4 linked regions of the Homo sapiens genome follow. The protein of the gene in region 2 interacts with the protein of the main gene of each other region in a pairwise test. Each region holds a gene or a part of one and is shown on either strand. Other genes may lie near its edges. The genes, in order: BAAT, SH3GLB1, SMIM12 and FAM177A1.

What was found.
Region 1: the proteins of SH3GLB1 (region 2) and BAAT interact in binary tests that used the Homo sapiens proteins (3 or more experiments, as listed by UniProt).
Region 3: the proteins of SH3GLB1 (region 2) and SMIM12 interact in binary tests that used the Homo sapiens proteins (3 or more experiments, as listed by UniProt).
Region 4: the proteins of SH3GLB1 (region 2) and FAM177A1 interact in binary tests that used the Homo sapiens proteins (3 or more experiments, as listed by UniProt).

What each region holds. Positions count from the first base shown.
Region 1 is NC_000009.12:101,374,987-101,382,014, reverse strand, and holds part of BAAT (bile acid-CoA:amino acid N-acyltransferase), read left to right. Parts: intron 1-7,028. UniProt on the Homo sapiens protein: Catalyzes the amidation of bile acids (BAs) with the amino acids taurine and glycine. More than 95% of the BAs are N-acyl amidates with glycine and taurine.
Region 2 is NC_000001.11:86,714,576-86,721,603, reverse strand, and holds part of SH3GLB1 (endophilin-B1), read right to left. Parts: intron 5,881-7,028; coding exon 5,739-5,880; intron 2,098-5,738; coding exon 1,969-2,097; intron 1-1,968. UniProt on the Homo sapiens protein: May be required for normal outer mitochondrial membrane dynamics. Required for coatomer-mediated retrograde transport in certain cells. May recruit other proteins to membranes with high curvature. May promote membrane fusion.
Region 3 is NC_000001.11:34,856,723-34,864,342, forward strand, and holds the start of SMIM12 (small integral membrane protein 12), read right to left. Parts: upstream 3,028-7,620; 5' UTR 2,955-3,027; exon of another isoform or gene 757-2,954; coding exon of another isoform or gene 729-756; exon of another isoform or gene 648-728; coding exon of another isoform or gene 464-647; intron 18-463; exon of another isoform or gene 1-17.
Region 4 is NC_000014.9:35,077,244-35,083,878, reverse strand, and holds the end of FAM177A1 (protein FAM177A1 isoform 1 precursor), read right to left. Parts: intron 4,953-6,635; coding exon 4,855-4,952; intron 2,858-4,854; coding exon 2,651-2,857; 3' UTR 501-2,650; downstream 1-500.

The sequences.
Region 1 (7,028 bases), on a different chromosome or scaffold from region 2:
ATCTGTCAGTGACTATGACATGTAGACTCTTGATAAATTCTTTTTGAAGTACTAATCAATTTGACTAAGAGTTGGAAATGTAGATTCCATTTCTGACTCTCATGTATTTCTGTATGATCTTAAGTACTCAATTTCTTGATTACAAGAAAACAAATGAAATACGGTACTTGGAAGCTATAGTATCACTTATTTTTAAGCTTCTCAGGAAACATATTCAATGTTTACTCACCACTGAATTATCATTCTCAGGACTTCTCTCTCTGTAGGCTCATTCTTGTCAGCATGTATTTATGTCTGTGTCTGTCTCATCTCTCATCTATATATACACATATATGCAACACAAACACTGTTGCATATATTTTCTTTTACTTTCAATCTGTCTTTTTTTGACAATGTGTTTCTGAAAAATAACCACTTGCTTTTTCAATTAGTTTGACAATCTGTCTTCTTTTTTATTTTTATGTATGTATTTATTTTAGAGATAGGATTTCAGCTCTTTCACCCAAGGTGGAGTCAGCTCTTTCACCCAGTGGCATGATCACAGCTCACTGCATCCTTGACCTCTTGGGCTCAAGCAATTCTTCTGCCTCAGCCTCTCAAGCAGCTGGGACTACAAGTTTGCCCCACCACACCCAGCTAATTTTTACTTTTTTTTTGTAGAGATGGGATCTCACTATGTTGCCCAGGCTGGTCTCAACCTCCTGGGATCAACCGGTCCTCATACCTCAGCCTCCCAAAGTGCTAGGATTACAGGCATGAGTCACCACGCCTGGCCTGTGTCTTCTAATTGGAGTGTTTGATCTGTTTGTATTTAACGTAATTATTGATATGTGTGGGTTTAAACTCCCATTTCCATTCATCCCATTTATTATTTGCTCCTTTATTCCTCCTTTCCTCTTGTGGCAGATTGCATTTCCCAAAAATGTATACACAAATACACATACAAATACACACACACAGCCAGGTGCGGTGGCTCATGCCTGTAATCCCAGCACTTTGGGAGGCTGAGGCAGGCGGATCATTTGAGGTCAGGAGTTTGAGACCAGCCTGACCAACATGCTGAAACCCCATCTCTACTAAAAAAACACAAAAAAATTGGCCAGGCATGGTGGTGGGTGCCTGTAATCCCAGCTACTCGGGAGGCTGAGGCAGGAGAATCACTTGAACTGGGAAGTGGAGATTGCAGTGAGCCAAGATTGCACCACTGCACTCCAGCCTGGGCGACAGAGCAAGACTCCATCTTAAAAAATAAAAAGCAAATACACATACACGTTTCATCCACTTAAAAAAATTTTACAATGTGATTGACATATCTCCTACTGTTAATAGGTATCAACATTTTCTCCACTTGAATTTTGATGGGAGCTTGTGGCTGCTATTAAATGGCAGAGATTATGCTATGTGATTTCCAGTGCTAGGATATAAAAAGGATACAGCTTCTACCTAGCTTTTTCTCTCTTGTGTTGCTTGCCCTTCCAACCCAGCCACCATGCTGTGAGTAAGCTTGCTCTGTGGTAAGTGAGCAGGTCTGTGCAAACCTACCCCCAAAGGCCAAGGGAGCTGAGACACTGAACAAAGAGAGTGACAAAACAGTTTCTCAGAGAGAAACATTTAATAGGGGCTTACAAACAGAAGCTGTGTCTCAGGCAGCTGTGAGACAAAGGATCCCCTCACTGTTACTCCCCAGACCCAGGGTTGATATACCATAGGGAAAGGATATACATGCTTCAGCAGGAATATGTAGGAATTTGCCTAAGGGTAGGATTTATGGTAGGTGCTCTTATACAAGAGATAGTAGATAAGGCAGAAATCTTAAAGGCATTCCTAGAAGTGGGATTAATCAGATGTCAACTGGCAGATTAGAATTCAAGATGGAGTTGCTATAACCTCCACACTCCAGCTTTCTAATTGGGCTTTTAGAATCTCACACACTGTCCTCTTCTTCAATGGTCTTTGAGTTTAGAGGAAGGGTGCTTGATATTGTACAGCTTTAGCAGCAGTGCACTGGCAATGGGAAACAGATCAGGCCCAGTGGGATTTCAGATGAGAAAAAATGCATAGGCTTTCTTGAATCATCTCTAGTCTTTGGAGTACCATGATTTTGATTTTCTTGGATGAAGTAAAACAATGAGAGATAAATAACATTAATATGCACACAAGGGACTACAATCAAAAACAGAATTTGTATGCCAGAACAACAACAACAAAAAAGAACCTATTCCATTAGGGAGCCAACTAAAAACAACATGAAGAAAATTAAAACCGGGTTTGTCTTTAGAGACTTCTTGTAGCCACAAAATAATTTAGGATTTAGTCCAAATTGTAGGCAAGTAATAAAAACAATGGTTAAGACTAGAATCTAATCATGGGTGTACAATAGTTTTCTTCTGAAACAATTTTTTTCTAAGTTTCTCTATTTCTACCAAGGATAAATTATTGTAGGACCAATTTATTTGCAAAATGAATTTTAGTCTCATTATGCTTGACCTGATTATTTGCATAAAGTGCAGCAAGAATAGTGATTGGCCATATAGGTTCTTGTAAAATTGGCTTTTTTGGAACTTTTAAATAAAGAATCTCAGATTTTTTTAAAGCCTTGAGGCTAACAAAGCCAGGGATTTGCCATCAGGCTGCAATAGCTGTATAAATTGGGTGAATTCTTCTAAAGATTTCCAAATAACTGGAGGTTCCTGGGCATGTCAAAATGCGACATTCGCCGGATGCGGTGGCTCACGCCTGTAATCCCAGCACTTTGGGAGGCTGAGGCAGGCGGATCACCTGAGGTCAGGAGTTGGAGACCTCCTAACAATGGTATTTCTGGTTTTAGATCCTTGAGGAATCACCATACTGTCTTCTACAATGGTTGAAGTAATTTACACTCCCACCAACAGTGTACAACTGTTCCTATTTCTCCACATCCTCTCCAGCATCTGTTGTTTCTTGACTTTTTAATGATCACCATTCTAACTGGCATGAGATATTATCTCATTGTGGTTTTGATTTGCATTTCTCTAATGACCAGTGATGATGAGCTTTTTTTAAATATGTTTGTTGGCTGCATAAATGTCTTCTTTTGAGAAGTGTCTGTTTATATCCTTCACCCACTTTTTGATGAGGCAGTTTGTTTTTTTCTTGTAAATTTGTTTAAGTTCCTTGTAGATTCTGGATGTTAGCCCTTTGTCAGATGGATAGACTGCAAACATTTTCTTTCATTCTGTAGGTTGCCTGTTCACTCTGATGATAGTTTCTTTTGCTGAACAGAAGCTCTTTAGTTTAATTAGATCCCATTTGTCAATTTTGGCTTCTGGTGAAATTGCTTTTGGTGTTTTAGTCATGAAATCTTTGCCTGTGCCTATGTCCTGAATGGTATTGCTTAGGTTTTCTTCTAGGGTTTTTATAGTTTTAGGTTTTACATTTAAGTCTTTAATCCATCTTGAGTTAATTTTTGTATAAGGTGTAAGGAAGAAGTCTAGTTTCCATTTTCTGCATATGGCTAGCCAGTTTTCCCAGGACCGTTTATTAAATAGGGAATCCTTTCTCTGTTGCTTGTTTTTGTCAGGTTTGTCAAAGATCAGATGGTTGTAGATGTGTAGTGTTATTTCTGAGGCCTCTGTTCTGTTCCATTGGTCTATATATCTGTTTTGGTACCAGTACCATGCTGTTTTGTTTACTGTAGCCTTGTAGTATAGTTTGAAGTCAGGTAGCATGATGCCTCCAGTGTTGTTCTTTTTGCTTAGGATTGTCTTGACTATATGGGCTCTTTTTTGGTTCCATATGAAATTTAAAGTAGTTTTTTCTAGTTCTGTGAATAGTATTGAATTTATAAATTACTTTGGGCAGTATGGCCATTTTCACAGTATCACTTCTTCCTATCAATGAGCATGGAATTATTTTTCCATTTGTTTATGTCCTCTCTTATTTCCTTGAGCAGTGGTTTGTAGTTCTCCTTGAAGAGGTCCTTCACTTCCCTTGTAAGCTGTATTCCTATGTATTTTATTCTCTTTGTAGCAGTTGTGATTGGGAGTTCACTCACGTTTTGGCTCTCTGCTTGTCTAATATTGGTATAGTAATGCTTGTGATTTTTGCACATTGATTTTGTATCCTGAGACTTTGCTGAAGTTGCTTATCAGCTTAAGGAGTTTTTAGACTGAGATGATGGGGTTCTCTAAATATAGAATCATGTCATCTGCAAACAGAGACAATTTGTCTTCCTCTCTTCCTATTTGAATACCCCTTATTTCTTTCTCTTGCCTTATTGCCCTGGCTAGAACTTCCAATACTTTGTTGAATAGGAGAGGTGAGAGAGGACATCCTTGTCTTGTGCTGGTTTTCAAAGGGAATGCTTCCAGGTTTGCCCATTCATTATGATATTGGCTATGGGTTTGTCATAAATAGCTCTTATTATTTTGAGATATGTTCCATCAATATCTAGTTTACTGAGAGTTTTTAGCATGAAGGGGTGTTGTAAACATTTTAGCTTTTATAATCCTATCAATCCTTATATTTTATGCTCTAGTCTCAGGAACTTCTGTACTCCACCCCCAGACCATTTTACCCTCTCTTGTGAAAAAACCTCTGGGTTCCCAGCAAGGAGTTGAGCCAAGGGATGTGGGCCTTTTTGTCAATCTTTATCTGATTAGTCTGTCTCCACATTGCCCCAGGAAATTATTAATCAGCTTTCTCATTGTAATTTTTGCCTTCTGATTTTTGAAACTTCCCCAATCTGGTGTAAATATAGAAAACTGATTTGGGGCTCTTTAATGTTGGGGAACCAGCAGGGACTCCCTTTGGTCCACCCAACATTTGATAGTGTTGTATTAAGACTCAAAAGGTAAACAAAAATTTTATTATCTCTCATTAATACTATCCAAAAATCTTGTTCAAAAGAGAAAACTAAATTTTGCTTTGTATTAGAGTATTATCAATAGTAAAGCTAATTTTAATAAAATTTTATGAATGATTTCATTGACTCTCACTCAGCTTTTGACCACACAAGAATTCCATAAAGCTTTTCTCTATCCAAAGGAATATAAATAAATCACTCTACCATAAAGACACATGCATATGAAAGTTCATTGCAGCACTATTCACAATAGCTTTTCACAGTTTCAAAGACATGGAATCTACCTAATGCCCATTAATGCCCTCTTACAAAATTGCTTTCTATGTTTCTCTTTCTCTAACTTTTAGATCTATTTATTTGTATCTATATCATTTCTTCCATTCATTTTGAAACAATCTTTAAAATACCACTAAACCGGGCCAGCATGCCTACATGCTCCTAGTCTTTGTGCACGAGTGGGAGGTGGCAGGCCTCCAACAATGCAGCTAGTCTTTGTGCGTGAGTGGGAGGTGGCAGGCCTCCAACTGTGGCCTTCTCTGCTGACTGTTCTAGTGAGGCATCCCCAGCCATGAACCATTTTGGTACCTGGTTGGTGGGAGGCAGGGTGACCCCATTGCTGCCACTGAAAGCCCGCAACAATGAAAATCTCAACAAAATTGGTATGTCTTTGGATGATATCATCAAACTAAATTGACAGGGAGGAAAGAAGCATAATTTTCTAACTGGAGCCTGGCAATTCAGGATGAGCATATGATGGAGAATTCAACAGAATTCTGGCTTTGGTAAGACTAGTCTGAGCACAGAGGATGAGTAATGCCTGGAAAGAGACAGCTTTATGGAGTTATCACTGGCCTTGCATCTAGGAAAGCAACTGGAATTCACAAAGAAATTAATCCTATGAATCATCCGTCTCTAGGTGACAGGAATATAGAACGATATTTTCTAGTGTTAAAAAGGAAGGCAAACCTTCTGGGACAAATATGAAGTGCAGAAAAAAACCAGTTGCAGTTCTCAAGGGACCTAACCAGCTAAACAGAAAAAAAAAACATTCCAGCCAATTTTACCAAGAATGGAAATAAATTAAGCCATCAGAAACACATGCGTCAGGCAACTTTTCATTTCAGAAGAGACGTGAAGGTTCAGACCCAGTTGAACACAACAGCAACTGCTGGATAACGTAGTCGGAAAGAGAACTCATCAATGGCAGATTTTTGTTGCAGGACTTCTTTTTAGTTCAGCTAAAGATGTGGTCCTTGTCCCACGGCCACAAAAATTTAGGCTCACAATTTGCGGAGTGAGAAAAATGGAACTTATTGGGCAAAAAGGAGAAAAGGGGGAACAGTTACTTTCGGCAAAGCCGGAATCGCAGCTAGTGCGCTCCCTGCCTCGCCATTTGAATCCAAGGTTCCACACAGGAAGAGGAGGGGCCAGGCTCCTCCCTACTGCAAATAGCAGAAACTTCGGTGGCACCCCAGTGTGCATTCCTCCCAGTTCGCCCGCGGTTGGAGTTTTTCCATGGACTCCTTCCCACTGGCTGTCTCACTTTCACCACAAACGGAGGAATTTTGACTCTATCTTTGGACAATCCTGGAGCAGTGCAATGCCTAACACAGAAATCAGGATTAATTCATACTGCTGTATCTTCATTTTTAACAAAATGGAAGCAATCTGACATAACGAAAGTTCCTAAAGTGGAACCCTACAATTGACATAAATTGTGCTGGAAAACAGACAGAGATGACTTTGAATGAGAAGTTTAGGATCCTGAAGGAACAAAGAGCCACTCTGACAAACAACAAAGGAGGAAGCTGCTTTGTAACTGTATTAGTCTGTTCACACACTGCTAATAAAGACATACCTGAGAGTAGGTAATTTATAAAGGAAAGAGGTTTAATGGACTCAAAGTTTCACATGGCTGGAGAGGCCTCACAATCATAGCAGAAGACAAAGGAGAAGCAAAGTCATGTCTTACATGGTGTCAGGCAAAAGAGCTTGTGCAGGGAACTCCCATGTATAAAACCATCAGTTCTTGTGAGACTTATTCACTACCATGAGAACAGTATGGGGGGGAACAACTCCCGTGATTCATTTATTTCCACCTGGCCCTGCCCTTAACATGTGGGGATTATTACAATTCAAGGTTAAGATTTGGTTGGGAACACAGCCAAACCATATCAGTAATCAT
Region 2 (7,028 bases):
AAATAGGGCAAGTACAGTACAAAGTAGAGTAGAAAGAAAGGAAGCCCCAAGATCAGGGTTCCACTCCTAGTTTTACTTCTAATAAGCTTTAGCTCTAAGGATCTTAATCCCTTCATGTTAGGATAAGCTTTGATCTGACTGATAAGGAAGGTAATACAGATAGTAGTTAAGAGCTCCGTCACTGGATACAGACAGATCTTCATTTGAATTACTATACTAGCTGTGACTGTGGATTAATTATTTAACTTCTCCAAACCTGTTTCCTTGTCTTTAAAATGAAGGTAATATAATTTATCTTAAAAGCAGGATATAAATGAGAATTAATATGTAAATATATATACTATATAATGCTTAGCCCATGCCTGTGATACTCAATTTTTAGTATTAATTACTAATAAGGTAATAGGTTCACAAAGCCCAATTCTAATAACCAGGGTACATTCACTAGAATTACTAGAGGTGCAAACAGATTAAGCAGATTTAAAAGGGAAGAAAATCTAGAAGCCTTTACTAATGTTCATGCTCTGCTAAAACCTTCTTCAGCCTGGTGAAGGAAGGGGCTGCTGGGTTCCTTTCACATACCTTTATGATCCCAGCATCTAACTGAGCTTGGCACAAGTAGGCAATAAAACATCTGTTTAATGTATAACATTTTTCTAAAAATTAACAGTAAAATTCAGAAATAATTTTATTTTGAAGTTCTAAGCATTTTCAAACTTAAAAATTAGATTTTGAAGAACACAATGTAGAAGTTTCAAAGTTGTGTACCTAAAAAAGCCTGTCAATGGATTAGTGGCATTCAACAATATTTAGGTTATTTCTTTCTGACATAAAGATAACTACTAAAGCTTAAAATTCATTTAATCCTAGAATTTATAAACCATTCTGTAAATCAGAACTATGTGTAGAAATTAATTTAATCTACCTACCATTTCATATCCAAAGACCAGTATCTTGCAGATGTATAAAGAGAATTATTATTAGACATAAACAACAGGAAAAGAAGCTACTGAAATCTGTAACAGTCTCATGTTATGAGAAAATTAGAGTGACAATAAAGATGTGTATGTAACTTTGAGCTTCAGGGCTATACATTTAAAGTCTGTACAGCAACTAATAAAGCGAGTGTAACTAAACCACGGCTATAGAAAATTTGAAATACATAAGAGAAAAACAGAAATGAAATGTAATCCAAATATCCAGAGATAACAATTGTTAATATTTTTTGGTTACTGACATTACTGCAAAATTATAACAAAAGCACTGATTTGTTCAAGAACTACGTGCCAAGTACCTTTAACATAAAATAAGCCCTAAGAAAGCTTTTTTAAAAATGAAGAGACATATGCAAACAATAATTGCAATATCACAAGTATTATAACATAGGTATTGTAAGATCACTGGGAGAACAAGTGAAGAATTCATTAAACTTTTTAGAACTAAAAAAGATGTGAATTCTCTGAATAACTAAATATATGCTTGAATATATTAAATATTACATTTAACTGTATATATTTGCCTATATTTCTCACTTCATCAAAAATTTTTAACATAAATTTGAAGTTAAAACCAATTCTACTACTATGTTTTTTTTTTTTTTTTTTTTTTGAGACAGAGTCTCGTTCTGTGGCCCAGGCTGGAGTGCAGTGGTGTGATCTTGGCTCACTGCAAGCTCCACGTCCAAGGTTCACGCCATTCTCCTGCCTCAGCCTCCCAAGTAGCTGGGACTACAGGTGTCTGCCACCACACCCAGCTAATTTTTTGTTATTTTTAGTAGAGACGGGGTTTCACCATGTTAGCCAGGATAGTCTCGATCTCCTGACCTCATGATCCGCCCACCTCAACCACCCAAAGTGCTGGGATTACAGGTGTGAGCCACTGCACCCGGCCTACTAATATGTTAATGACATCTCTAATAAATCTAAACATAAAGATATCCCTTATTAGAACTTTTTGCATTTCACTTACCATAAGCTGTTCCTGGGCCAAACTCAGTCCCTGCATCAATCATATATTGTCCCAAAAGTTCTGGGTTGTTTATACGACTTGGAGCTTTTCTATCCAGTTTCTCATAAACAAATTCTTCTATCCTGGCATCTAGGAGAAAGGTTAAAATTACCAATGATTTCTAAAAAGCAAAACTAATTAGAAGATTGTTTTTTTCCCCCATCAGCAGCCATTTATCATCTCCTAAAGTTAGCATTCATTCAAGCACATATCTTAATAAATAATTTTTTAAATTTTATGTTAGACTATTATATAACTAAAAAATTATATTTTAGAAATTTGATAAAATATCTTGGCACAAAAGCATTTTAAAATAAAATAAAATTATTATTTGAGTATTCTACAAGATTTTAAGTTCCAGAAAAGGACTGATTAATTCACTTAATATTTATTGAAGGTGTCTTTGCCCTGTTTGTAGCATTTTAACTCTAATTTTTACTCTGAATGTACATTCATAATTTCAAAATCAGGATTTCTGGCTAGGAAAATACAGATATAAAGTACCTGGAAGAACCAAAGACTTACATCTGACAGCTTTAGCATGAGCATTTGCTCTCTCTTTTTCTTGCCTAGAGTCTAAATATAGACACAGGCGCTTAAGGCATAGAACAATCCAGGCTTGGAATAGTCTACAGACAGATCAGCAATATGATGCCTTGGCTTTAGTTTATGTTTAAAGTATACAAGTATATCTCTGAGCATGCATTCACTCAAAAGATTTCATCATTAAAAATAAGTTTAAAATACGAAAGGTTAAAGCAATAATAGAACATTAGAATAAATGGAAAGGGGAAAAAAACAAAAGCTGAATAAACACTTGGTTAGCAAAATGCTTAAGACCAAAGATATTAACATTTACAATGCTGTCCAACCTAGAGGTATTTCAGGACAAGTGAAAAAATGGCTTAAGTTTCCAGAAACAACGATTAAGCATAAATTGAAGCTAAGTCAAATAGGTTCCCTCTAAGTACCTCACATAGATTCCTACGCATGCGGAAGTTTCACACAGTGCACTGAAAATTTAAAAAATGAGCTGAACCAGTAACAGAAACATTTCAGGAGTTGGTAAAAGGCTTAGTTATAATACATAAAATAGAGTATAGCAATGATACTTGCTTTTGTGGTAGATTCTAGTACAAAATCAGAAGTTTTAAAGCAGAAATTAAATACCTTTAAATAGTTAAAACCAAAAAGAGCTTTTTAAAACATAACCATTTAGAAGATACTAGTTAAATTTCAGAACTTCATTTTGGCCCGGTGTGGTGGTACATGCCTGTAATCCCAGCACTTTGGGAGGCCAAGGCAGGTAGACCACTTGATGTCAGGAGTTTGAGACCAGCCTGGCTGACATGGTGAAACCCCGTCTCTACTAAAAAAAAAAATACAAAAATTAGCTAGGTGTGGTAGCGCATGCCTGTAATCCCAACTACTCGGGAAGCTGAGGCAGGACAATCACTTGAACCCAGGAGGCAGATCTTGCAGTAAGCAGAGATTGTGCCACTGCACTCCAGCCCAGGTGAAAGAGTGAGACTCTGTCTCAAAAAAAAAAAAAAACAGCTTTGTGTTTTGACTCTGATTCTTAATTTTGACTGCTTTTCCACCTATCTGGCCAAAAGTTTAAAATGGAATCTTATGCTGACTTCGTTCAGTTAATAAAATATTTGGAATACTAATAAATGTTTAATTTCAATAGGTTATAATAAAATCTTAAATATGCAGGCAACTCTGCTACAATGTAATATGTATTTCTGCATAACGTATTTTTGAAAAACCCATTTCCAGAAGATCATACATTGAAAACAACATAGGAATTACAAGAAAAGGAGTGTTAGGTTTGGCTGCTCAAAACCTATGTAACTTAATAACCAGAGCACAGGCTGGGCATGGTGGCTCACACGTGTAATCCCAGCGCTTTGGGAGGCTGAGGCGGGCAGATTACCTGAGGTCGGGAGTTCGAGACCAGCCTGGCCAACATGGAGAAACCCTGTCTCTACTAAAAATACAAAAATTAGCCGGGTATGGTGGTGGACACCTGTAATCCCAGCTACTCTCAGCAGGCAGAGGCAGGAAAATCGCTTGAACCCAGGAGGTGGAGGTTGCAGTGAACCAAGATCACACCACTGCACTCCAGCCTGGGTGACACAGCAAGACTCTGTCTCAAACAAAACAAAACAAAACAAAACAAAAAAACCACAGCACAAACAAAAAACAAAAACAATTATTACGACTTCCTGGCACAAAACAGGGGCAGGAGGAAATTGTATTTTATTTCCCTGTTTACCAGTTGTGAATGAGCTTATTTCCCATTCAGAAAAATATGTTTAGAACAAGGGGAAAAATGTCTATTACTTTTAATAAAAGTGCCAGAGTGTAGAATTTAAATGGCCTTAAATGAATAAAAAATATTACATGGTGTCCAAAGACATTAGGACTCACTCAAAGTGCAAAAAGCTTATTTTATTTCCAACTTTTATTTTAGTTCAAGGAGTACACATGCAGATTTGCTACCTGGGTATACTGAATGATGCTGAAGTTTGGGGTACACATGAACCTGTTACCCAGGTACTGAGCACAGAACTCAACAGTTAAGTTTTTCAACCAAAAGGTGTATTTAAAAAGTCACTACTATTTAACTAAAATGATAGAGAACTGCTAATATTTATATAGTGCTTGAAGTTTAAGTTAGTATCTAAAAGTAAGCATATGTCATATCACAACTTGGTCCCAAACAAGTTGGGGAAAAAAGAAGGAAAGCATACATTGTACCTTTGTTCTTCAGTTTTGATATGCAAAGCTCACAGTGAAAAGACTGGATGTTCATACACCCGGTTCTAGTCCAATTTCCACTTCTAATTAGCTATGCTACATTTGACAAGATGCTAACTCATGAGTTTCATTCACTAAACAATTATGCACCTTAACTGCAAGATTATTGAGTTGACTTATCTGAAAATCTCATAGTTGTCTGAAGATGAAATGAAATAATTTATGTGAAAATGTAAAACTTAAACATAGGCGGGGCGCAGTGGCTTATGGCTGTCATCCCAGTACTTTGGGAGGCCGAGGCAGGTGGATCACGAGGTCAGGAGTTCGAGACTAGGCTGGACAACATGGTGAAACCCTATCTCTACTAAAGACACACACACAAAAAAAAATTAGCTGGGCGTGGTGGCACATGCCTGTAATCCCAGCTACTTGGGAGGCTGAGGCAGAAGAATTGCTTCAACCTGGGAGGTGGAGGTTGCAGTGAGCCAAGATCACACCATTGCACTCCAGCATGGGCGACAGGGCGAGACTCTGTCTCAAAAAACAAACAAACAAACAAACAAACAAACAAAAAAACACACCAAAAACTTAAACATAAAAAATGGTACCTACTTAAGCAACTATATAACTTTGTCTTAATTATCTAGGGACAATTCTTCCCTAGATGAAAAAGGAAAACATATTTATATACACAGCTGCTCATAAATTAAAATTCAAAGTCACTGCCTAAAATTGAGATTTTTTACAAGGATTCTATAAAAGACTGAAAAATATCATTTTAAAATTGGTTAGGTACATAGCTGTTTATCACTTCCTCTTCACAAAAGCACACACAAAAAAACCCACTGACCTTGAAGCTACAATAAAAAAATCCTATGTTTTCAGATGGCCATTAAAACTTTTTTTTTTAACATTTAAAAACCCACTAATAGTACTTAAGGTACACAAGAGGTAGAGTTTCTTACTTGGATTTGGCTGCAATAACACTTCAGTTTGTTTCATTATTTTTTCTGTCCATATTTTGGTACATTCAGCTTTGCTAAGGAGGTTCTCTAAGTGAGCATCCAATTCTGTCTTCTCAGCCTGGCCAAGCTTTTCTTCTGTGAACTGTTATTGATTGTAAAACAAAAATTAAATATACTGCAAATAAATTTTAGGGAACCATATCAATAAGTAAAAAGCAAATTCAAAGCTAAACAATCCTAAACATACAAATAACCATGCTCCAGCTTTGTAAGCCATTGCTTATGAATACTTTTTTTTGCTCCTATGGTAATTTATCCATACTTCTTTTGTGGATGACCCTACCTTACAGTCATCACATACCCTTAGTTCTGCTAAAATGTATGGTGTGAATTCTACAGAAAACCTAAGTATACTTCTTGGTATATAAAGCATGCAACTATTTCAACTACCTATCCTAGGTAGACTAGGATAACGGTAAAGAGTAAGAGCTTTGAGTCAGTTGAATCTGAATTCAAATCTTAACTTTGTTCCTTGCTGTGTGAGCTGAGCAATGTATTGAATATTTTTTCTTTAGTACCCTCTATTATAAAAGAGAGACAATACATATTTTATAGTGTTTGGGGGATTAAGTATGATTGTGTATGCAAATCACTTTGTTTGGTGCCTTGTAATTATTAAGTTTTGAAAGAGCTGTTAATGTTTATTGTGGTTTATGTCTTATTAGCACTTTAATCACACCTAGTTAGATAAATAGTTTCCCAGAACATACCATAAAACCTGTCATTTAAGCTGCTGAGGATATGTTCCAGCAATTTATTTATAGACTAACTTTTGGAACATATCCTATTCATACTATGAAGACATCTTTTAAAGGTCATAAAATGTGGTTAAACGTACTCAATGAATCAATTTTTATTATTGAATATACTGGTATTTGAGAAAAGGTAGCACTGCCTATATAATAATAAAGCAGTAAAAAGATTCTGTGTAGATCTACAGCCTTCTGGATACTTTTAATTAAACATTAGAGGTGATGACTCAAGCTGTTTATCATGCATCATTTTCCTCTAGAATATGTGGCTTCCTCCCATCTTAACACAGGTATATCACTAGCATTAATTCTGTGCTCAGTAATGACTCACTTCTGGCTGACAAAACAGTGTTCACCTTGCCTTTCTCTCCTTTCGTTTCTCAAAAATCTCGTTTGCTACTCTATTTTCTGAGTTTTATTGTTTCTTTCAGCATCCTTCTTCTTGGTTTAATACTTTCAGGTTATTATCAACACCTTA
Region 3 (7,620 bases), about 52 Mb from region 2:
AAAAGTCGTTCCTTTTCCTCATGTAAAGCATAAGGAGCATATTTAAACAGTCAAATACATAATGCATTACCTAATTATTCTGGATTTTAGGTAAATAGATAATGGTTTTATCCTGTTCTGAACCTGGCTTTTCTAACAATGGAACAAACCTATACTTTACAAATCTGCTGACTAAACCATTTTCAAAATATCCTATCTTGGCTAAAGACGGTGGCTCACACCTGTAATTCCAGAACTTTGGGAGGCTTGTAATCCCCATTACTCAGGAGGCTGAGGCAGGAGAATCACTTGAACCTGGGAGGCGGAGGTTGCAGTGAGCTAAGATCAAGCCACTGCACTCCAGCCTGGGCGGCAGAACGAAACTCCGTCTCAAGAAAAAAAAAAAAATCCTATCTTCAACCAAACCCATACCTTCATATTTACATAAAAAGCTCCTGAAAATATCACAAATCATTATACATACTCTGGATACCGCAGAACCTGAAGATTTTCTGTGAAAAATCACTGTACAAGCCCGGGGGGTGGGGTGGGGTGGGGTGGGGCGGGGAGCGGAGTGGAATGGCCTCAGGGCCTCCTGAATTGAAGTAGGGCAATACCAAAGTAATGTAAAAACACACAAATTGGATCACTCTAATGGCCAATTCCATCTCAAATGATTATTACCATTATCAATTATCAAAGATCATTCACAGTTATAATAACACAGCTACCATTTATTGAGCACTTACATGCCAGGCCTTGGGCTAGGTGCTTCATATACACTCACTCTCTTAATCCTCATGTCCACCACGTGAGGTAGATACATAACCCACTATCAGAGGGTTAAGAGACTTGCCCAAAAGTATCCACTAAAAGATCTTTCTGTTTATGCCCCTGTAGGTATTTCTCCAACACTACTATCTCTGATCTAAAGTGAACAATCGAAACCTCACCAAGGATAAGATGATTCTCCCCCTCTCTCTTTGGTTCCAATTCTCTTTGAAGGAATCCCAATGTTCTCTAGACGTAACACTATAAGGCAGCGGTCCCCAATCTATATTTGGCACCAGGGACCAGTTTCGTGGAAGACAATTTTTCCACAGATGGGGGTTGGAGAGGGATGGTTTCGGGATGAAACTGTTCCAGCTCAGATCATCAGGCATTAGATTCTCATAAGGGGCACACAACGTAGATCCCTCACATGCGCAGTTCACAATAGAGTTTGCACTCCTGTGAGAATCTAATGCCGCTGCTGATCTATCAGAAGGTGGAGCTCAGGCGGTAATGCTTGCCAGCTTGCCCACCGCTCACCTCCTGCTGTGCAGCCCAGTTTCTAATGGGCTGAAGACCACCACTGGTCTGTGGCCCAGGGGGTTAAGGACCCCTGCAATAAGGCAGCATCATGAAATTTAAAAAAAAAAAAAAAATTGCAGCATCTCCAAGACTCCCCCGCTTATTGTCTCAGCACCAGGCACTATGATGACAATTTACACACTAATCATCATTTGATCCTCATAACACCTCTATGATGTAGGAATTATTAGCCCAGACTCTTGTGAAGGCCACAAAGGCTCACAGACATTATGTTAACTTATCCAAGATCACTAGAAGTGATAGAGCCACTGATTTTGAACCCAGGCCTCTCCAATTTCAAAGCCTACACTCTTTCTAGTGGGAAGAACACACTGCAGAGGTATACGGTTTCTGTCCAAACCCTGGACTTAGGGAGAGCTTCCTACAGTTTTTTCCCATCAGCCTGGCATTTCATTACCTAGAAGAGCTTTCCTTTTCCCAAACTCTGAGATTGTACTCAGGGATTTATGAAATTCAGAGACATAGTAATAGTTAAAAGAGGCACCTCTGAAGAATCCCAAACCTAATACTTCTCCATTTTACTTCCACCTTTAAAGCAAGTCCTCTGTATAAGTAAATGCTTCCCTAAATAGCAACTGTCCGTTCAGATTTCCAAACCTGTCTTAAAACATATCGCGCATGAGTTCACAACTATCTCTCACATGCAGCATAAAGTCTCTCGCTACCGTCCTGCTCACATTCTAATCATTCCCAAATAAGTCAATTCATTCCTTTATTCGACACTTATAACCACTTACTCTGTGTCAGGCACGATGCTGGCTTACCCTGTCTGCGTTTCTCAAGACACTTTAAGCTCCAAAAGGCTAAGAACCGTGTCTGTCTGGCCCAATTATGCCCTATCCATCCAGGCACCTCTCCTACCCTGCCTGGCAGAGTGCCCAAAAAAGGTCTGCTGAACGAATGAATGACAGCCCAAACTCCCTAGTGTAAAATCACAACATCCTCCACCCACTCTCCCCCAAAAGGTGGCAGGAGCATAACAGATGCCTTTGCTGATTACAAAAACCTAAAGACTCCATCATAGTCGTCCCCAGGCAGGGTATCACAATGAAAGAGGCAAAAGTGTCTGAAAAACACTGTGACGCATATTTCCAGCCCGGCATGGAGGACGTCTGCCAAAAGCATCCGGTAAAGGTCAACTGGGCTGCTGGGAAACCTGCCCCAGTGCGAGGGCCCGGAGGCCCAACGAGGCCAGAAGCCGTAGTCCCAAATTCAAGAACTACTAACAAGGACACAGGAGGCCTGAGAAGGCGGAAGAATTAGCCCTGACAGTCACTAGAGCGCAGTCCAGGAATGGGAGCGCAAGTAAGGCGAAGGTCCATCCAAATGGCTACCCTTCTCCCTTCTGTGAGTCTCCCGGTCCCCTGTCCCTAGCCCACCTCATTCATGGCCTCATCAACGTCCGTCCTCATTGAGGTGCCGAGAAGCCCTGTCTGCGGAGGGCTACCTGGGCTCCCAGACTTGGCACCAGAACACCCGCCAGAGAGGGGAGCTGGCAGATCTGGCCGGGACCGGGGTGGACCCTAGCGATCACTCCTCCCGTAACTCAGAGGTTACTGGCCTGGGCTGACCCGACCTGCTCGCCGGGACCGCGCGCTCACCTGCGGCCCAGCCCACACTCCCCAGTGCGGCCCCCGCTCTCCGCCCGCTCGCCGGGAGCACGGAAGTCGCCGCACCCAGCGGCCCGCGGGACCTTGCCCTGTGACCCTGCCCACTGGCCGCCGGCTCTCTCGGAGCGCAGGGATTGGCTGAACTTCAGCCAAAGGACGGAAGGAAGCTAGGCGTCCGCAACTGGGCCCCACTGCGCTGAAATGGACGTCGCGCCCTCTGTTGGCCGGGAGGTTTCTCAGTGATGTCGCCACGTGTTTTCTGCGTGGAAAAAGTGAAAGATCATCCAGTCATTTTTTTCAACTGATGTTTATTAGGCGTCTTCTAAGACCTAGGTCTGGGCACGCAAAAACAAAAGACATGATCCCTGACCTCAAGAAGCTCTTCTTAGAAGAGTATATTTTAGTGCTTTAAGACCTCTTGGGATCCGGGCTAGCTTTCTAGTGACCTTGGGAACATTATTAACCTGTCTGAGCCTCCCTTCCCCTTCTGTGTAGAGGTAATAACACCCATTTCGCAAGGATGGTGTGAGGGTTGGAAGAGATAATATTTGTAAAGTACTGTGGCAGGCACACAGCCAGCAGGGAAATAAATGTGGCTATTGTTAGTGTAAAAATAATTCAAATATAGTAAAACCTAAGTCTTACATGACCTCTTGGGTACAAGTATTCACTTCCTCCTCTGTGTCCCCACTGTACCCTATACAGACATCAATTTTATCATATACAGAAAAGTCCCAAAGCTCAAGCTTGTTAATGCTCCCACAAGGCCCTTCCCACCCTCATCCCACTAATCTCAGCCTGCATATTTATTTTGCTCGCACATACTAAACCCGGCAGACCACACTGTTTCACACCTCAGTGCCTTATTGATGCTTTTTCATCTACCTTCCCACCTTTTTTGTTGTTGTTGTTCAATTTCACTCTTGTTGCCTGGGCTGGAGTGCAATGGCGTGATCTCGGCTCACCGCAACCTCCGCCTCCCAGGTTCAAGTGATTCCCCTGCCTCAGCCTCCTGAGTAGCTGGGATCACAGGCATGCACCACCACGCCCGGCTAATTTTGTATTTTTAATAGAGAAGGGGTTTCTCCATGTTGGGGAAGCTGGTCTCGAACTCCCGACCTCAGGTGATCTGCCCGCATCGGCCTCCCAAAGTGCTGGGATTACAGGCGTGAGCCACTGCGCCTGGCCGCTTTTTTTTTTTTTTTTAACAGGACTCTCGCTCTGTTGCCCAGGCTAGAGTGCAGTGGCACAATCATAGCTCACTGCAGCCTCAACCTCCTGGGCTCAAGTGATCCTCCCACTTCAGCCTTCCGAGTAGCTGGGACCACAGATGCACACCACCAGGCCTGGCTAATTTTTGTACTTTTTGTAGAGACTGGGTTTCACCATGTTGCTAGGGCTGGTCTCGAACTCCTGAGCTCAAGCAATCCGCCCGCCTCAGCCTCCCAAAGTGCTGGGATTACAGGCATGAGCCACCGTGCCTGGCCATGTAGTGCCCTTCCCACCTTTCTTTACTATGCCAGATTGTGCTCTGGCACAATTTTCAAGCTTAAGGGTCACCTCCAGAGGAAGCCTCATACATAGACTGCTTATCACATTAGACACCCTTCCTCTATTATCTCAAACAGCTCAAAGCTAAGCTCTGGCAGTGAAGATGGAGAAAAGGGAACAGTATTGTAGGGGCCAAGGTTCACTGAAAATCAACTGACAAAAGGCAGATTAATAGGAGAAAAGACATACAAAATTTTATTTTAACGTGCATAGCACGGGGCGGGGAGGCGAGGGGGTGGGAAGGGAAGGGTCACAGGAGAATGATTACCCAATAACCCAATGGGGTACAGAAGCGTATACACTCTTTTTCATAGGGGAAGGGGAGAGATGGAGAATATAGACAATTCTTCTGAGGGCAGCAAGTGATTCTTAGGGCGAAAAAATGGACAGAAATTAACTTGTAAATGATTCTCTTTAGAATTTGAATGAGCCCGAGAAACAGGCATCATCTTGTGAAAAATCCATCCAGGCGTAGTTGCCTTCCTCAGTCTTCTTTTCTGAGCTAGATGAGATTTCGGAGAGGGGAGGAAGGCAATTTTGTTTCTTTTGGAAAGACGTTTTCTCGATCAGATTAGGAAATTCTAGAGAGAGTGCCTCCCTATACTTGGGAGAGAAGGTTAGAGGGACCTTGATTCTGAGGCAGCTTCGAAGGCCTCTCAGCATGTCAAAGCGCCAGTCTTTGGGGTATCGCTTTCTGAGCCCCAACAGTACAAATAAATATTTAGGAGACCGTTGTTAGCAGAACCTGCTCACTAACTGAATATGTGGAGAGGAGAAGGGAACAGAACTGTCCAGAGTAACTGGCATTTGGTCAGCCAATCATGTGCTAGGCAATGGGGATGCAAAAATGACTGGGACCAACCTGCCTCCAGAGTTCTCTGACTAAAGAAACAGATGGGTCTACAAAATGTCAATAGAATGTAAGAAATGTGATGACAGAAGTATACACACGCAGCACAGAGGAGGATCTTCAGCCCAGCCAGGAAGATTCAGGGAAGGCTCCCTAGAGGAACCAAGCCTTGAGCTGAGTCTTGAGTCATGGCTAGCAGTTCCCTCAAGCAGAATTGCTGAGGGGCTCAGGAGCATAGACTGAGAAATCAGATAGCCATGGGTTCAAATCCTGACTCTTGTCTGCTTATCTCAGAAAAGCTATTTACACTCTTTGTTTTTAAAAAAAGACAATAATAGTACCCACTCCTAGGGTTGCTATGAGTATTAAATCACCTAAATGTGTATAAAGTGCTTGGCATAGTAGTTTGCACCTTCTCAGTGCTCAGTAAATGGTTATTGACATGTTAAGTATTTCCCAACTGTATTGCTCCTTCTGTAATGTCCTATGTCCATTCGTGGCATTACTCATTCATTAAGCCAGAAATCTGAGTGACACCTTCAAGGCGTCCCATCTTTACATTATTCTCCAGATCCAGCTTACTGCACTTATGCCTCCTAAATGTCTCTCAAAGTCAACATCATTATCTCTTACCTGGACCACTTTAGCAGCTCCCTGAATGGTCTCCCTGCTGTCTTGTTGCCCCATCCAGTCCATTTCCTTTCTTTTGGCCGTAGTTTCATCTTTCAAATAAAACTATGAGGTTTCCATCTTAGCCTCCCACCCCCAACTCTATGGGTCCCTTCTGGCCGTATCTCCTCCACGCCCTCCACAGCCACCATAACCTGTCACCCTCTCCAGCCTATGCTTTCATTCCCAACACACATGTGCTTCCATGGCTTTGCCCAGGTTGGTCCCTTGGCCAGAAATGAATTTCTCCCTTCTCTTCCTTGACTACAAAATGCTAATTCATCCTGCAAGATCCAACTCACAAGGCAGAAGGCTTTCCCAGACTGCCTGTGCTATGGTTGTACCCTCCAAAACTTACACTGAAATTTGTCATTGTATTAAGAGGTGGGACCTTTAAGAGGTTATTAGGCCATGAGGGCTGCACTCTCATGGGTGGATTGACACCCTTATAAAAGGGCAAGTTCAACTCCCTCTTGCCCTCTCTTGCCCTCTCACCTGCCATGGGATGACACAGCAAGAAGGCCCTCACAAGTTGCCAGCCCCTTGACACTGAATTCCCCAGCACCCAGAACTGTGAGCCAATAAATACCTGTTCATTATAAGTTATCCAGTCTGTGGTATTGTTATAGCAGCACAAAATGGACTAAAACACCCTGGTTGCTAGAGGCTCTCTCCTCTCAATCCCTTGGCCCCTCTGGGAGAACAGGTTTCCCTTTGCACCATAACTTTCTGTTTATATGCTGGCCATGGCCAGACTGTAAGCAACTCAAGCAAAAGGACTGGACCTAATCTTTCACTATCTATGGGGCTCAGCATAACTACCTAGGCCACAAGAACCAAAGGAGACTCATCCACACCAGACATGGAAAACTCTATGAATAAAGTCATAGACCCATAAAATGCTGTATAAATGTAAAGGTTAAACTCAGACTCAGCCACTTCCTGGCTTCATGGTTTGAGGTAAGCTGTTTAAACCTCTCCAAGCCCATTTCCTCATCTGTAAATGGGGGTGAAAACAATATCTGTTTTACAGCATTGCTCTGAGTTCAAACCTCACCCATGCCCCCAATTTTAGAGATGATAAAACAACCTCAGAGAGGTAAACTGACCCAGCCCTTCTACTGGAGACCTTTGGACAGTCATCCAATTTAAGTCTTCCCAAAGCTGGCTGCTCAGAATCTTGTGAAGCACTTGTTAAAACCTTATTCGAGGGCAGAGTCTATTCACTAAGTCTTGGACCAGGCCCAGGAGTCTGTATGGGATCACCTCCAAACGGACTGCTTTTGGGAATTCAGATCACATTAGAGTTCTCCTCACCTTCCAGGCTCATGTGTGTACGTGGACCATCTCTTGCTTTTCCAAAGTTGTCTACCAAACCAGTCTATAAAACGTTCATGCCACTCCTCTGTTCAAAACCCTTCTATGGCTCCCTACAGCCCACAAGACCCAGGCCACCTGCCTCAATGAGACCCAAACACTGATATAATCAAGTCTCTGTGCTCCCAATGTCTCTTCCTCTTCCAAGCCTTTGCACAGCTGTTCCCTGATCTTGGAACATTCTTCCCAGCCCTGGCCCTCCTTCAGCAG
Region 4 (6,635 bases), on a different chromosome or scaffold from region 2:
TATGTTAATTCAGGATAAAGACTTCAGTTATACATTACATTTAGTTTTTATGAGATGCTGAAAGATTAGAAGAAGGTAAATATGAACTATGATCCAGAAGGAACTGGAATTCTGTTTTTTTTTTTTTTTTTGGAGACGAGTCTTGCTGTGTCGCCCAGGCTGGAGTACAATGGTGCAAACTCCATTCACTGCAACCTCCGCCTCCCAGGCTCAAGTGACTCTCCTGCCTCAGCCTCCCGAGCAGCTAGGATTACAAGCACCTGCTACCATGCCCGGCTAATTTTTGTATTTTTAGTAGAAATCCATCTCTACTAATTCACCATGTTGGCCAGGTTGGTCTCGGACTCCTGACCTAGTGATCCGCCCACCTTGGCCTCCCAAAGTGCTGGGACTACAGGCGTGGGCCACCGTGCCCAGCTGGAACTGGAATTCTTAAAAGGACTGAAAAGGAGATAGGAAAAAGTGAGTGAAAGAGGCTTAAAGTAAGACAAACCATTGAATACATTTATGGGAAATTTTATAGTTTGCATAAACAAAGTATAAACTTAAGGCACAGTGAATAACTATATTGATAAACATAAACTAGCCACTATTGGACAAGTAGCAAAAGTAAAATTCAAGAAACAAAACCTTCATAAGTCACTACTTCCTTTTGTTACAATCATAAAATTTTCTGGGTAAACTCTAGATACTAGTACCTCTAGGGAGACAGGATTCAGAAGATCACTTTTAGACACACCTATCTTCACTTGATAACCAAATAAATATCTGTGAGTGAGAGGTACTATCTCGAATGAAGTTAAAAACAAATTAGAAGGAAAAGGTCAGGTTAGCATGTTTTAGAACTATTGGTAAACTATAATTCATGGGACATTATATAATCAAAAGATTAATATTTTAAGCACTAAGTTATAAAGGGTTTACACCCATGAATAAAAAGATTACCATCACTTACTATGAACCACCATTCCATGAATCCATGTAGCTGAACACTCCTAATGAAAAGTTTAATTATCCTTCAACCTGTAGTTGAAGAACTCAGTTCATGTTCATTGACAGATTTCCATTACAGACCCACTATATTGATGTTACTTTCTTTGACACTATATTTTATATAGATATATTAAAATTGAAAACTTAATGCTGTTTAGAAGGCTATTAATATAACTATTAATTTCTGAAAGCTTTGAGTTTCTGAAAAGGCTTTTAAGATCAAAATTTCTGAAACACTCCACACATTCTTCCTCACCCACATTTAATTATAAATCAATGTTATACTGATAAAAGGTTCTATACACACATTTAGAGATATATGTGTGTGTGTGTGTGTCTGTGTGTGTGTATATATATATACTTTTTTCCCCCCAAGATGGAGTCTCACTCTGTCGCCCAGGCTGGAGTGCAGTGGTGCAATCTTGGCTCACTGCAACCTCCACCTCCCTGGTTCAAGTGATTCTCCTGCCTCAGCCTCCCGAGCAGCTGGGATTACAGACGTGCACCACCACGCCTGGCTAATTTTTGTATTTTTGTAGAGACGGGGTTTCACTACGTTGGCCAGGCTGGTCTCAAACTCCTGACCTCAAGTAATCTGCCCACTTCAGCCTCCCAAAGTGCTGGGATTACAGGTGTGAGCACCGTACCTGGCCATATTTAGGAATATTTTCAAAATTAGCTTCACAATATATACATTTGTAAGGTTTACAAATAACCAAGTAGGTAGAGGAGTGGCCAACCAGATTCAAGTAAACTGTCCAGTCTTCACTGTTGCTACTTCTAAATGATGAATGACGGGTAATTTCATTAGGCTATCATTGCACCTTATACAATATCTAATTGCTCCTGATGGATTAAATCTATACCTGTCCCACTATCCCCCAATCCCCTCCAAACCACTTTTCTATAGGATTAACGCTGAACCGATAACATAACCAGGATGCCACATGGATATTCACTAGGTATTAACATTAATAAATCTATTCTATAAGTAGTGTTTTAATATTATGTTCAAAGCTAGTTATTTGAGTCCTGAAAAAGAATACAAGATTAAGTAAGTGGCTTGCATTAAAAAATGGAAGCCTATCTTAATATCTGGTGTTATAAATACAGATTCTTACATAAAACAGTTATTCTCAATGAAAGAAAATTCAAAGTGCTTCCATCTTGCTCCTTTTATTATATGGTGAAGCATCCTTAGTGTGAAATTAATGGTTAGATATATAAATGCATGGCATAACATGAGAAAATCTAGGAGAAAATATCCTCATTTTAATCTAAGACTATGGAATTATCAATTCCAATTAGACTTAATCAGCAACTTACCTTTTTCAAAAAAAGCAAATGCACAAATAGGCTTGATAATTTAACTCTTCTTAACTATTAAGGCTCTAGGATGTCCTTAACTTTTTTAAAAGATCATTTTAAAACCAAAGCACTAATTTCTATACACAGTAAAAACAGTACAAATATCTGAATTTCAGATCTGGCTTTTGCTAGATAGATCCTAAAAATGAAGAAAACATTTTCCCTTTCCAGATACTTTAATAATTTAAAATATAAATAATTGTATTAAGTCCCACTGAATAAAGAATGTGAAAGTTTTTGTATTAAAAAAAAAAAACTTAAGAGTTTGAAGCTTGATAGTCATTTCATTTTATGGTGGGACAGAGACTGGATTTTGCTTGCTTTCCATAATTACTTCACTGTCTCCCTCCATTTCAAAATTGACATTCACAAATGAGCTGGATATCACTGTCTCTGGTTGATCTGTCTGAACAATGGAATCAGTCTGCAATTTATTCTGTTGATATTGTTTTTCTGCTTCTTCAGACATCCTGTTTTCTTCTTCTTCTTCTTCTTCCTAAAAAAAAGGAGCAATATCAAGAATAGTTGAAATACGAAAGTCCAAAAGGTATATAGTGCTGTTTTCCCCACTGTCAGCTTATGTTTAAAAAAAAAAAAAAAAAAAAGTGTCATGTTCAAATCAGTTTGGTCTAATTAAGACATACTTTCCCTTCTCCTGCTCTCTAATTGAAATAACCACTGTAAAACATTTTAAGGAAAGTAGTTTTTTCTTGTTGTTTGTTTTTTTTGAGAAAGAGTATTGCTCTGTCACCCAGGCTGGAGTGCAGTGGCTCACTGCAACCTCCATCTCCCAGGCTCAAGCAATTCTCCTGCCTCAGCCTCCTGAGTAGCTGGGACTACAAGCACCTGCCACCACGCCCAGCTAATTTTTGTATTTTTAGTAAAGACAGGGTTTCACCATGTTGGCCAGGCTGGTCTCGAACTCCTGACCACAAGTGATCCACCCACCTCGGCCTCCCAAAGTGTTGGGATTACAGGCATGAGCCACCGCGCTCAGCCCAAAAGAGGTTACTTTTTAAAACAGGGTCCAGCACTACATCACGTAGATGAGACCTGAATTAACTTTGACAAGGACTTTATTTTTTTCAGATTAAGTCTAAGCTAAATAAATAAAAAGTTAGCTTCAACTGTATCACTTCAATTGTAGGGTGTCAGTCTATTCGGTTGAATAGGTTGGTTCATTTACTACATGATATATAGCATAGTTAGTTTTCCCATAAGCATCAAATACATAGATAAGGCAGCACCTACCCTCAAGAAGTTTACAACTTAGTAGGGAAGTTAAGACATGTAAAAACAGTATTATGACAGATGTACAGATTTTGAAAGGGTAAATAATTTCTAGTTGCAGAACTACTAAATTCATTGAGTAGGTGGCATTTGTATTGGACCCTGCAGAACGGGTAGTCAGTACACAGTGAGTAACCCCAGAAGATTACTCTGGGGCTTGCTTGAGAATAGAGACCATTTAGGAGGCTAGTATAATAGCCCAGATGAGGTAATGAGGCTCTAAGCAAGGCTTACAGTGTTAAGAAATACTTATTTGTTCATAAAACAGGTTTGAAACCATATGACAAATATTAAGTCAGCTGACCTTTCCAGGCTCATGTCCAGTCACTCCCACATTGTACCTTATGCTCCAGTGACAATAAACTATTATATTTTTGCCATTTCCCCAACCATAACAATGTACCTTCATGCCTCTACATTCTAGCTTTACCTGAATTGCTGCCCTCTATTTGCTTGAAGAATAGCAGATGCCAATATTTGTTGTGCTCACTAGGTGCTGTTCTAAACATTTTATATATTAATGTATTTAATCTGTAGAGCAGCCCCCGAGCATGGATGCTGCAATTCTCCTCATTACAAAGATGAGGAGATTGAGGCTTATAGAGGGGTTAAGTGTTCTGTCCAAGGTTACAAAGTTTTAAGTGGTAGAACGGATTTTGAATTCAAGCCCTTTGGTTCTTGAGCCCATGCTCTTAAGCACTAAAGGCTTTTATTTTTTAAGACAAAATTCACTTCACTCTCACCTTAAGACCTCACTACTTTTAAACTGCCCTCAAATTTTTGTGCATTAACACCTGGCACATACACATTTCTTGTACTTAAATTTTTATCTGTGCCAAACCCACTCCACTTTTCCTATATCCAGTCCATGTGCTCTAAGTATCTTGTTTCTTCATCTTAGAATTAGAATGATAATCCAAAGAGAGGCATGTGAAGATTAAATAATGTATATAAGGCATCTCACATAGCACTAAGACAATGAAATCTAGCTTAGTTTTGCACACAGATCATAGGAAAATTCCAGTTTAAAGGAATTCCAAAATGTATGTTACTTTGATAAAAGAAATTAATGATTCTAGAATGAAATGCCTAGCATAAGAGAGCTACATGTTGGGCAGTTAGAAAATACATAGGCTCATTATGCAACCCATCAAGTCCATAGCAAACCAAACTGAATCAAGAAAATGTAAAAAGGAGGCATACCTCCTTCTTCATCCGATAATATTCATCAATGGCATATTGGTACTTTGGGGTGCTGATACCCAAAACAGATGCAATCTTCTCTCCAAGGAAGTCACACACTGAAAATACAAAAGTTAAAAGACTTATATAATTCTATAAACATTTCTTGAGCACTTTCTATGTGTAAGACACTGTAGGAATACAAGAGTTACTGTTCCTGCTCTCAAGGAGATTATAAAAACCTAATAGATCTATCTTCTGTATATCTTCCCTGATTTTCTTCAAGAAGTACCGGTGGCTTCAAAACTCCCAACAAGTCTTTTCATGTCTGTATTAGAATACTTATCACTAGGTGTATCTGTTATATATCTATGTCTTTAAGAAAAGTGTATACTGCCAGGCATGGCGGCTCATGTCTATAATCCCAGCACTTTGGGAGGCTGAGGCAGGCAAATCACATGAGGTCAGGACTTCAAGACCAGCTTGAACAACATGATGAAACCTCATCTCTACTAAAAATACAAAAATTAGCTGGGCATGGTGGTGGGCACCTGTAATCCCAGCTACTCAGGAGGCTGAGGCAAGAGAATAGCTTGAAACTGGGAGGTGGAGGTTACGGTGAGACAAGATCACACCACTGCACTCCAGCCTTGATGAAAGAGCAAGACTCTGTCTCAAAAAAGAAAAATGTATACTCAGAAAGCTGGGATATCACTGGGCTGGAGGAGGGGAATGGCTTGTAGTATAATACTCACTGAGTGCCTACCATGTGCCAGGTACTGTGAAAGGTTAGGCGTAGAGAGGTTAAAGAACTTAACCCAAACTGATAAGGCAGATCCAAAGTTCAAAGCTAGGTCTGAATCTCAAGCTCATGCTCTTTCCATTACACCAACCTGTCTAGCATATATTCAGTGCTCAGTAAATGTTTGTTGAATCAATTACTATTCACAATTAGCTCTAATAAAATGCAGAAAGTGATAAAAAGCTATGAGGGAGTTAAAAATGGAAGCAGAAGAAAGCTTCATAATTTAAAACCTATATTTTAAATTAGCATTATTAAGTTATAAGTTGATAATTCATTTCCTTCAAATATGACTTAGTCACATCTCAATTTAAGAAATGGAATATTAATGAAATAGAAATATAAATTAACTATAATACAGGCTTTAGAATAAGCAGTGAGACAGATTGAGAATGTTATCAATTGGAAACCAAATGACAAAGCAGCAAAATAGCTGTTAAGAGAAAGGGTTTAAGAACTTGAGGCCGGGCGCGGTGGCTCACGCCTGTGGTCCCAGCACTTTGGGAGGCCGAGGCGGGTGGATCATGAGGTCAGGAGATCGAGACCATCCTGGCCAACAAGGTGAAACCCCGTCTCTACTAAAAATACAAAAAATTAGCCGGGCGCGGTGGCGGGCGCCTGTGGTCCCAGCTGCTCGGGAGGCTGAGGCAGGCGAATGGCGTGAACCCGGGAAGCGGAGCTTGCAGTGAGCCAAGATTGTGCCACTGCAGTCCGCAGTCCGGCCTGGGCGACAGAGCGAGACTCCGTCTCAAAAAAAAAAAAAAAAAAAAAAAAAGAACTTGAAAACCATATCTAAACTAACATAGTCATTTTTCATTCCTCAAAAAATAAACTATATTGGAAGCTGAAGAATGTTTTAATGTGAAGTACAAGTTAGGTTACTATCTCCCAATGCTAGCTAGCTCTTGAGGACAGTGATTAACTCCCTATTGTTTCTCCTTCAGTTTGGAAACATCCTATTTAGCAAAGTTCCTGTTGCTGAAGCATGTTACAGCAATTA